Linked DNA regions of Homo sapiens: region 1 is linked to region 2. The links come from fine-mapping of genetic effects on gene expression. A gene starts in region 2. The other region holds a variant in brackets. All regions are shown on one strand. Distances are from middle to middle. Region 1 overlaps ARHGAP5 (Rho GTPase activating protein 5). Region 2 holds the start of ARHGAP5 (Rho GTPase activating protein 5).

Evidence for each region. PIP is the estimated chance that this variant, and not a neighbour inherited with it, causes the effect.
Region 1: its variant is the best candidate, but not a certain one, in a credible set for the expression of ARHGAP5 in whole blood (INTERVAL, PIP 0.50).

What each region holds. Positions count from the first base shown.
Region 1 is chr14:32,130,090-32,135,322 of GRCh38, reverse strand. The region is part of intron 3 of ARHGAP5 (Rho GTPase activating protein 5); the gene reads right to left. Among named protein-coding and RNA genes, the nearest start is that of ARHGAP5, 55 kb to the right of the region's middle. The variant C/T (reference allele first, on the strand shown) is at 2,140.
Region 2 is chr14:32,074,477-32,079,709 of GRCh38, reverse strand. It overlaps ARHGAP5 (Rho GTPase activating protein 5), which reads right to left and starts at 2,406. Exons shown (of 7, transcript NM_001030055.2): 1 at 2,275-2,406. ARHGAP5-AS1 (ARHGAP5 antisense RNA 1 (head to head)) reads left to right here and starts at 3,011. Exons shown (of 1, transcript NR_027263.1): 1 at 3,011-4,291. RefSeq lists silencers at 2,053-2,347, 2,146-2,365, 2,726-2,985.

The DNA.
Region 1 (5,233 bases), 56 kb before region 2:
AGATGAGTTGCTTTCAGCTTCTCTAAGTTACCTTCATTCCAGTTAAATGTATTTTTTGCATTAGTGTTTGCTGACTAGCAACTAAAATAATTTAAACCAAAAAAGCCTCAATTCCTGGGCAATGAAAGTTTGGTATTTTTTCTTTCTAGGCACTCAATACTTTTTAATAGGAAAACTTTGGGAGTGATGAGACAACTGGATTGGAAGGAACAAAATAAATGCTATATACTGAGTCTTCCCTGTAAAACAGATGTTAAGACAAACAATGCTGGGAATGGACAAGCATGGGCAATTAATGGTATGTGGGCACAATGGGTGAAAAAGACAGATTAATGAGATACCTGAGGCCTGGACAACTGGGAGAATTAAATATAAGAATGAAATATAAGAACACTCTGGAATGTGAGAGATAAAGATCTGGGAGTCATTCTTGTAAACGTGATGGCTCAGGCCCAATAGCAAATATAAATCAGACATGCATAAATGACATCAACAGTAAACGGAATGGCTATAAATTACTCAAACTACTTAAAGATACACTTAGGATAAGCAAAAGACAAACACATGAAGACATACTATGATGAGACATTGTGATGATATTTTTATTTCAAACAAGATTTAATGTTCCTTAAATGCCCACTCTGTGCTGTGTTTAGAGTATGTATGTGTGATACAAGACATAAAATATATTGTCCCTGATACTGTATAGTTCAATAGGCCGGCTATTTTGAGTTTTAAAACAACAGCTGAAGTAAATGTGTTCATGCTGTTTTTAATGATGCATTACTAATGGGGCTTCACTTAAGCTAAGTGAAGTGAGATTTTTCACATGCTAAAAAGCTGATAGGGATGAAGTAACATCAATAGAGCAAGAGTTTTTTGCGGTGATACTTGACATTTCAGGCACAATGCCATTACAGGAATAAGACAAAAAGCAGTATTTTCTTTTCTCAATTTATCAAAAACGAGTTTCTTAAAATTCCATGTGGGGAGGGGGATACATATATTATGATAAATTCAGTTTATTGAACTAAAATGTGTCACTACTTTCTAGTCAAATAAAATTTAGGAATATTCTGCAAAAAAAGGCTTTGAATTTTTTCATGAAAAAATTCATGACATGAAAACATACCCACAAGATTAGAAAACTATTCTAAATTAAAGAAGACTAAAGAAGTATGACAAGCCCACTTGATCATGGTGGATAAGCTTTCTGACGTGCTGCTGGATTCGGTTTGCCAGTATTTTATTGAGGATTTTTGCATTGATGTTCATCAAGGATATTGGTCTAAAATTCCCTTTTTTAGTTGTGTCTCTGCCAGGCTTTGGTATCGGGATGAAGCTGGCCTCATAAAATGAGTTAGGGAGGATTCCCTCTTTTTCTATTGATTGGACATCCCTGGGATGCAAGGCTGGTTCAATACATGCAAATCAATAAATGTAATCCAACATATAAACAGAACCAAAGACAAAAACCACATGATTATCTCAATAGATGCAGAAAAGGCCTTTGACAAAATTCAAAAACCCTTCATGCTAAAAACTCTCAATAAATTAGGTATTGATGGGATGTATCTCAAAATAATAAGACCTATCTATGACAAACCCACAGCCAATATCATACTGAATGGGCAAAAACTGGAAGCATTCCCTTTGAAAACGGGCACAAGACAGGGATGCCCTCTCTCACCACTCCTATTCAACACGGAGTTGGAAGTTCTGGCCAGGGCAATCAGGCAGGAGAAGGAAATAAAGGGTATTCAATTAGGAAAAAGAGGAAGTCAAACTGTCCCTGTTTGCAGATGACATGATTGTATATCTAGAAAACCCCATTGTCTCAGCCCAAAATCTCCTCAAGCTGATAAGCAACTTCAGCAAAGTCTCAGGATACAAAATCAATGTGCAAAAATCAAAAGCATTCTTATGCACCAATAACAGACAGAGAGCCAAATCATGAGTGAACTCCCATTCACAATTGCTTCAAAGAGAATAAAATACCAGGAATCCAACTTACAAGGGATGTGAAGGACCTCTTCAAGGAGAACTACAAACCACTGCTCAAGGAAATAAAAGAGGATACAAACAAATGGAAGAACATTCCATGCTCATGGGTAGGAAGAATCAATATCGTGAAAATGG[C/T]CATATTGCCCAAGGTAATTTATAGATTCAATGCCACCCCCATCAAGCTACCAATGACTTTCTTCACAGAATTGGAAAAAACTACTTTAAAGTTCATATGGAACCAAAAAAGAGCCTGCATCGCCAAGTCAATCCTAAGTCAAAAGAACAAAGCTGGAGGCATCACACTACCTGACTTCAAACTATGCTACAAGGCTACAGTAACCAAAACAGCATGGTACTGGTACCAAAACAGACATACAGACCAATGGAACAGAACAGAGCCCTCAGAAATAATGCCACATATCTACAACTATCTGATCTTTGACAAACCTGACAAAAACAAGCAATGGGGAAAGGATTCCCTATTTAATAAATGGTGCTGGGAAAACTGGCTAGCCATATGTACAAAGCTGAAACTGGATCCCTTCCTTACACCTTACACAAAAATCAATTCAAGATGGATTAAAGACTTAAATGTTAGACCTAAAACCATAAAAACCCTAGAAGAAAACCTAGGCATTACCATGCAGGACATAGGCATGGACAAGGACTTCATGTCTAAAACACCAAAAGCAATGGCAACAAAAGACAAAATTGACAAATAGGATCTAATTAAACTAAAGAGTTTCTGCACAGCAAAAGAAACTACCATCAGAGTGAACAGGCAACCTACAAAATGGGAGAAAATTTTCACAACCTACTCATCTGACAAAGGGCTAATATCCAAAATCTATAATGAACTCAAACAAATTTACAAGAAAATAACAAACAACCCCATCAAAAAGTGGGCAAAGGACATGGACAGACACTGCTCAAAAGAAGACATTTATGCAGCCAGAAAACACATGTAAAAATGCTCACTATCACTGGCCATCAGAGAAATGCAAATCAAAACCACAATAAGATACCATCTCACACCAGTTAGAGTGGCAATCATTAAAAAGTCAGGAAACAACAGGTGCTGGAGAGGATGTGGAGAAATAGGAACACTTTTACACTGTTGGTGGGACTCTAAACTGGTTCAACCATTGTGGAAGTCAGTGTGGCGATTCCTCAGGGATCTAGAACTAGAAATACCATTTGACCCAGCCATCTCATTACTGGGTATATACCTAAAGGATTATAAATCATGCTGCTATAAAGACACATGCACCTGTATGTTTATTGCGGCACTATTCACAATAGCAAAGACTTGGAACCAACCTAAATGTCCAACAAGGACAGACTGGATTAAGAAAATGTGGCACATATACACCATGGAATACTATGCAGCCATAAAAAATGATGAGTTCATGTCCTTTGTAGGGACATCAATGAAACTGGAAACCATCATTCTCAGCAAACTATCGCAAGGACAAAAAACCAAACACCGCATGTTCTCACTCATAGGTGGGAACTGAATAATGAGAACACGTGGACACAGGAAGGGGAACATCACACACCGGGGACTGTTGTGGGGTTGGGGGAGTGGGGAGGGATAGCATTAGGAGATATACCTGATGCTAAATGACCAGTTAATGGGTGCAGCACACCAACATGGCACATGTATACATATGTAACAAACCTGCACGTTGTGCACATGTACCCTAAAACTTGAAGTATAATAATAACAAAAAACAAAAAACAAAAACAAAAACAAACAAACAAAAAGAACATGAAATGGTGGTTGCCAGTGGCTGGAGGAAGGGAGAAATGGGGGGGTTGGCGTTTCATAAAAATACAGTTTCAGTTTTTCCAAATGCAAAAGTTCTAGAGATTGGGTGCACAACAATGTGAATGTATTTACTACTGAAATGTATATTTCAAAATGGTTAACATGACACATTTTACGTTATGTATCTTTTAATACAATTATAAATTGATTTTAACAAAATTAACACAATTAATACAAATCTTAGAAATGCAAAAATAAAATAAAATAAAGACAAACCTAAAAAAAAAAAAAAAAAGAAGTATGACAAGAAAAGTAATACATGATTCTTGCTGGGACCTTGGATTGATACAACAAAAAAGCTCTAAGAGGACACCGTTGAGACAACTGGGAGAATTTGATTACAGACATTATATTAGACAATAGAATTGTATCAATATTAAATTTCCTAAACATGTATTTATTTTGCAGTTATGTGAAGAGAATGTTCTTGTTAGTGGGGAAATCTATGCTAAATGACTTGGAGGTGAAGTGTCATGCCGTTTTTAACTGAATTTCACATTGTTCAGCACCTCCCACCAGCCTCCCAAAAAGCTGGAGAACTGTGGTAAAAAGTTTACTCGGTGAATCTAGAGAAGGGTAAACAAATGCTCAATCATACTATTCTTGTAACATTTCTAAAGGTCCCAAAATTTTGAAAAATGTGAGAAAATGAAAACAGGCTGGGTGCGGTGGCTCATGCCTGTAATCCCAGCACTTTGGGAGGCCGAGGCAGGTGGATCACAAGGCCAGGAGTTTGAGACCAGCCTGGCCAATATGGTGAAATCCCATCTCTACTAAAAATGCAAAAATCAGCGGGGTGTGGTGGCACGTGCCTGTAGTCTCAGGAGGCTGAAGCAGGAGAATCGTTTGAACCCAGGAGGCGGAGGTTGCAGTGAGCTGAGATCGCGCCACTGCACTCCAGACTGGGCGACAAAGCGAGACTCCATCTCAAAATCAATCAATCAATCAATCAATCAATCAATGCCAGGTTGGGCATGGTGGTTCACACCTGTAATCCCAGCACCTTGGGAGGCCGAGGTGGAAGGATGACTGGAGGTCAGGAGTTCCAGACCAGCCTGGCAACATGATGAAACCCCTTCTCTATTAAAAAAAAAAAAAAACCCAAAAAATTAGCCTGGTGTGATAGCAGGCACCTGTAATCCCAGCTACTCAGGAGTCTGAGGCAGGAGAATCACTTGAACCTGGGCGGTAGAGGTTGCAGTGAGCCGAGATCCCACCACTACACTCCAGCCTGGGGGACACAGTGAGACTCCATCTCAAAAAAAAAAAAAAAAAAAATCCCTTATGAATGCAAGGGATTCAACAAACAAATTTACTAGGTAAATTGGAAATATAAGATGATCACTTAAGCTGCTTAAGATATGTGGTCATATATATATATTTTATTACATATATATT
Region 2 (5,233 bases):
CATCTTACATCCTGCCAATGTTGGTAAAGTTTAGTAAAGTCTTTATGAGACCTAACTTTTTCTTCAATTAAAAAAAGTGAGTTAGAAAACTTATTATCGCTACTTCAAATCCAAAAAAGGAATGCAAATACAATATTCATTCCTTAAATAATCTTAACTTTCAAGGTCAAAATAACTCTCCAAAAAAATGACTGTGCTAATATGCTTTTCAAACACAAATAAGAAGGGGAGACGGTTTTCAAAACATTTAGGATAAGTATCTTGTGACAGAATTAAGGTAATAATTTTGCAACACATTTTAAAAATTGCTAAGGTCGTTTAAATGGGGAGGGACACTACAAAACTCATAAAGATAACAGAATTCTGCCGCAATTCTTACATCAAAGTGTAACCCACCTCACTCCCCAGTACTCTTAATAATTAATGTACAAAGAATGGCAAAATAAGACATGTTGATCTAGGTTTAAAAACACAGCCTACACAAGACAACCAAATCAATAGTTATTTAATCATCTGTACCGTCTGATTCTGCTTTAAGTCAATTAGATCAATAGTGCTATTTCTTGAAAGTTACAAGCATAGGTATGCGCAGCCTTTCACTCCAGTGCGTTTAGTCATAAATTGCTCCAGTGTCTTTGCAAGTTTTTGGTGACACATACTTACCGCTCTTTGTACTACAGATAAAGGTAATGGAGGTCAATTAGTATACAAAGGATAGATGAAAGCAAAAAATGAGAAAGGAATTTAAAATGAAAGCAAAATCTTACTCAAGAAACTATCTAGTAGGTTACCTAGACGGTTAGTAATACTTATCTACAAACACTGAATAAGAATACCGTTTTATCGTATTACAGTACAAATAAACTAGAATTGACAGCAAAAGGTTTCATTAACGTATTTTTAAACCAAACATTATTCCAAATGTCTAATCGCTGCATCTAGATGAAATTTTTGTTAGGAGAACCATTTTAAGTGGAAATGTAGAGCAAGCTCCCATGAAGTGAACGAGATCCTTCATGCGGATAAACACCACCTAACATTCTAACTGAATACTGGTTCTGGATTTAAGTGGAATTGACAAACTCGCCCCCCGCCCCTACCTGTAGAAAGCAACATAAGCAAGTACTAGTAAATACAGCGAAGCATTTTGCTGTTTTACACCTGAACATTTAAAAAAAAATTCAGTTTCCTGCCTATCACAAAGGAAAAAATAAATGATCGATAAGAATTTAAACTTAAAACGTAAGCACAAACCCATCTATATGCCTATCTTGCTCTATCTCAAAATATTTGAATTCCCATTTATTAAGCGATGGCCAAATCCGAATTTCTATCACATGGTAGAAGTATAAGCGTCTCCCCTACAACTTTTTCGGGATTTTACTAAACGGCCTAATAACAGTTTGCCCTTACTTCCGTGCACCTTTCAACCTCAGCTACACCCCGAGCCTCCAGCTCTCTTGCATTTCTAATAACGCTGAAGAGGGAGGGTGAGAGGGAGTATTTCTGTGTGGATAAGTGCGCGCGCGCTCCCGCGCGGCTCCCCACCCCCACCCCGATACTTTTCTTTAGTGGAAAGAGAGGAAGAATCTGGAGGTTATTCTAGCGAAAACTCAGTATCAAAGCCTCAACCCAGTCGCAGTCAGCCCATAGGACTCTGGGCTCTGGATGCGCAGTGCAACTTCTCATATCTTACTCCAAGCTTCAAAGCAGATGGAAAATTGGTGAAGAGAACCCAGGGAGGAGTCGAGGAGATGAGGGAAAGTGAAAGGGCCGATCCCCCCTACAAGGCGTTTAAGTTTGCAACCGAGACTGTGTTTCCGCGAATCTGCACCCGCCCCGTGTACCCTTTCCAGGTGGAACTCGTTAACAGCAGCAACCCGGCCAACGGACACCGCCACCTCCCCTCTCGACGGACCACCCGAGACTCGAGCAAGTGAGGCGGCGGGCGAGAGCGGACGCCTGGCGGGGCCGGCGATCCCCGGCCAGCATCAGGCCTCCGCCGACCCTGGCCCCGTCACCTGTGGAGAAAGCACCCCCTCCCCCGGCCTCTCTGCCCTTCACGCCGAACGTATCCCTAACGCTGCAGCTGCTGCCCGCCCGGCCTGCGAAAACCGAGCGCAGCGCCAGGCTCCCCTCGGCGGCCGCGGGGCCCCAGCCCCTTCAACTGGTTACAACCGGCAGCGGCGACCGAGCGGGGCAGCTAGCCGCAGGAGGGTCCCCGTCCGGGAGGGGGCAGGCAGGCTTGGAGGAGCGGGGTCCGCAAGGTCCTACCTAACAACGTCGGTCTCCTCCGTCTCCTCCTCAACGGCAGCGGCCCCGGCGGTGGCGGCGGCAGCGACATTCCTGGGGACCGCTCCCGCCGCCGCCGCCTCCTCCTCCACTCTCCGCTCGCCTCTCTTCCTCGGCGCGCTCACCGAGCGGCGCGTCCCTTCAGCCACCTCCCCCCGCCCTCCCCGACACACACGCCCCGAAACCCTGAGCCCCACGGCTCCCGCAGCCAGCTCACCCACCCTCCCTCCCTCCCTCCCCGCCACCAGCGGCGGCCCGTCCCTCCCCCCTTCCCCAGCGCCCGCCGCCGCGCCGGGCTCAGTAATGGCGGCCACTCGGGCTCCCTCGCGCTGACGGATTTCTCTCCCTCTCTCCCGAACTTTACCTCAGCATCTCTCCCGGCGCGCGCAGCCACACACCCGACCGGGGGCGGAGCGGCGGCGCGGCGGCGCAGCCTGGACGGGACGCGCGCGCGCGCGCGAACCCGCGCTGCCCTCCCCACAATCCCCCGTCCCCGCCCCTTCACCTCGCGACGCCTCCCGCGCCGCGCACCCGGCACGGCCCCGCCCCTGCCCTCGTCTCCCGGGAGCCTGGGAAGGCGCGAGCTATCCAGTCGGAGGGAGGGGGACGAGCGCGCGGGGCCGCGTCCTCGCTCGCGTCCCCGCTCCCTCCTCCCCTCTGCTTCTCCCTCCCCTCCACTCCCCCATTGGCTTCTACCCCTCCCCCTTCTTCCTCCGCCTCTCCCACCATTGGTTCCCTCCCCTACTCCATTCCTTCTCACCTTTTCCCTTTTACCCATTGGCGTGAGTATTTTTCCTCAGCTTCCCTCTTTCTCCGTATTCTGCTCCTCCTCAGTCCCATCCTCCACGCTTTGGAAGCTACTGCCTTACTGCCCGGAGCGCCGTCGTCCCCGAACCTCCCCTGCTTCTCCCTTTCCTTCTGTTCCGGTTTCTGGTCGTAACTCAAGAGCAAACCACCGTACTGCAAAGGAACCAGATATTGTGCTCGCGGTTCCAAACCGGGCATGGGCACCGAATGCTTCTCGATAAATCCCCTTATGGTCTCTGAGCATTAAAGAAAGCAAGGGAGGAAAACATGCGCCCAAGCTCGTTCGCAGGAACATGTTCGCGTGTCTGCGCCTGTGTGCGCAGCCAGTTTTCTGGCTGAGGATCGCTCGCCAACTACAGACATCACCCGCCCAGGACCCGGTGCCACACTCACCCAGAAGACGAAACTCCACAGGAGCGAGAAGAGGAGTCCATTTCTCCGTCGGCTCGGCACGGCACGGGGATGCAGGCCCCTGATTCAGTACGTTCTGTGAAAGTGGAGCGAGAAGCCAAGACGTGGATCGAGAAGCCCCGTGGGGCGGGTCTCAGGGTGGCCCAAAAGACCCCTGTTCACGCCACTACCAGCCTAACTTTAGGAACTGTCGTCCACCTGGCTTTTATTATACTGCCTTAAACATATTCACTTTTTTGAGACTCTAGAAATTTCACAAGTTTTGGGGTAGAGCACACTGGGCTTTGGGTGTGTTTCTCATGAGGGCACTGACGCTGAATGGTGCAGTGAGAAAGGACGGTAGAAACCACTGCCTTTGCTTTTACCATTGAAGAAACTGAGGTCCTGTGACTTTCCCGAGGTCATCGGAATCTGCCTTGCACAGGAGACTTAAAATAGTTGCCAGCAGATAAAAGAATGAGCAAAACCACATCTACTCCAATTTGTTAAGTCTGAAAGAAAGTAATTGAGGGGGGATTCCTCTTTGGGGAAATATTTATTTCCTGCATTGAAAATAGTTTAATGTTAGTAAACATATAAAAAGTATTTTAAATTCAAGTTATTCTTTATTTCTTATGTTACATAAGGTACTGAAGTTAGCCAAGGTTGCTTTTGTGTTATAATGATGCAGCTGCTGCCAACCAGAAGTACATTTACGGTCTGTCAGTAAAGAAAACAAAAACTGCCTGTTGGTAAAAATCTATTAGAAAATATTTGTCAGTAAATTTGTCACAATATTCCAGCAGAAGTTCTGTTCGTTTTTCCGTCTTCCTGCCCTTCATATTTCTCAAAGGTAGACTTAATAAAGGTAGAAGAGACATTTCTAATTTTTCTATATATCTCTTGCTCCCTAATTTCTAAAAGGCATAACTAAAATGCTTTATTCGAGCCACTCCCTTGCATCTGAACCCTACCTACCAAGTAGGTTAAGAGTAGGTTAGGTAAGGTCTGTAGCTACTTCTTTCTTTCAGTTACAAATTGTAGGTGGGAAAGAAGGATGCGGAAGGAAACTTGCAAGGAAAGCAAACAGAAAGAAAAAGAAGTAAAAAAGGAGAGAAGGGAATTTGGTGGGTGGTCCAACCATCAAAATGTGGTACTAATGCCATAGGTATCTACACCACTTATGTAAGTTGGAATGTTGATGCATTCCAACGCATGTTTTTATCTTTGTACTGAAAGCCCTTAAGAATACCCGAAGTAAACATATAAAAAGTATTTTAAGTTCAAGTTATTCTTTATTTCTTATGTTACGTAAGGTACTGAAGTTAGCCAAGGTTGCTTTTTAGTGTTATAATGATGCAGTTCAAAGTCATAACCTGAATAAGATGTTAAGTACTATAGAGTGTACACCCTAAAGATACCTTAAAAATTATGTCCTAAATAATCAGAAATTTTAATAATCATGGACATGTATCAACATAAACCAAAGCCAAATAAATCAGGGCTTCTAAAGAAAACGTTAAAAAGGTGTAATGTTCAGTTATAGGACATGATACTGGAGGCAGGGAAGACTTGAAATCTCATTTATTTTCTTATAATGAAGACACCAGAAGACGTTAAAAAAAAAAAAAAGATCACGATTTCCAAACAATGATTTTCATAGTCGACATTATTTTCAGTTCTTTATCTTGATTTAGGGAGCCTGGAAATTTAGGACTTCGTTTCTTATTAATACTAATAGTCT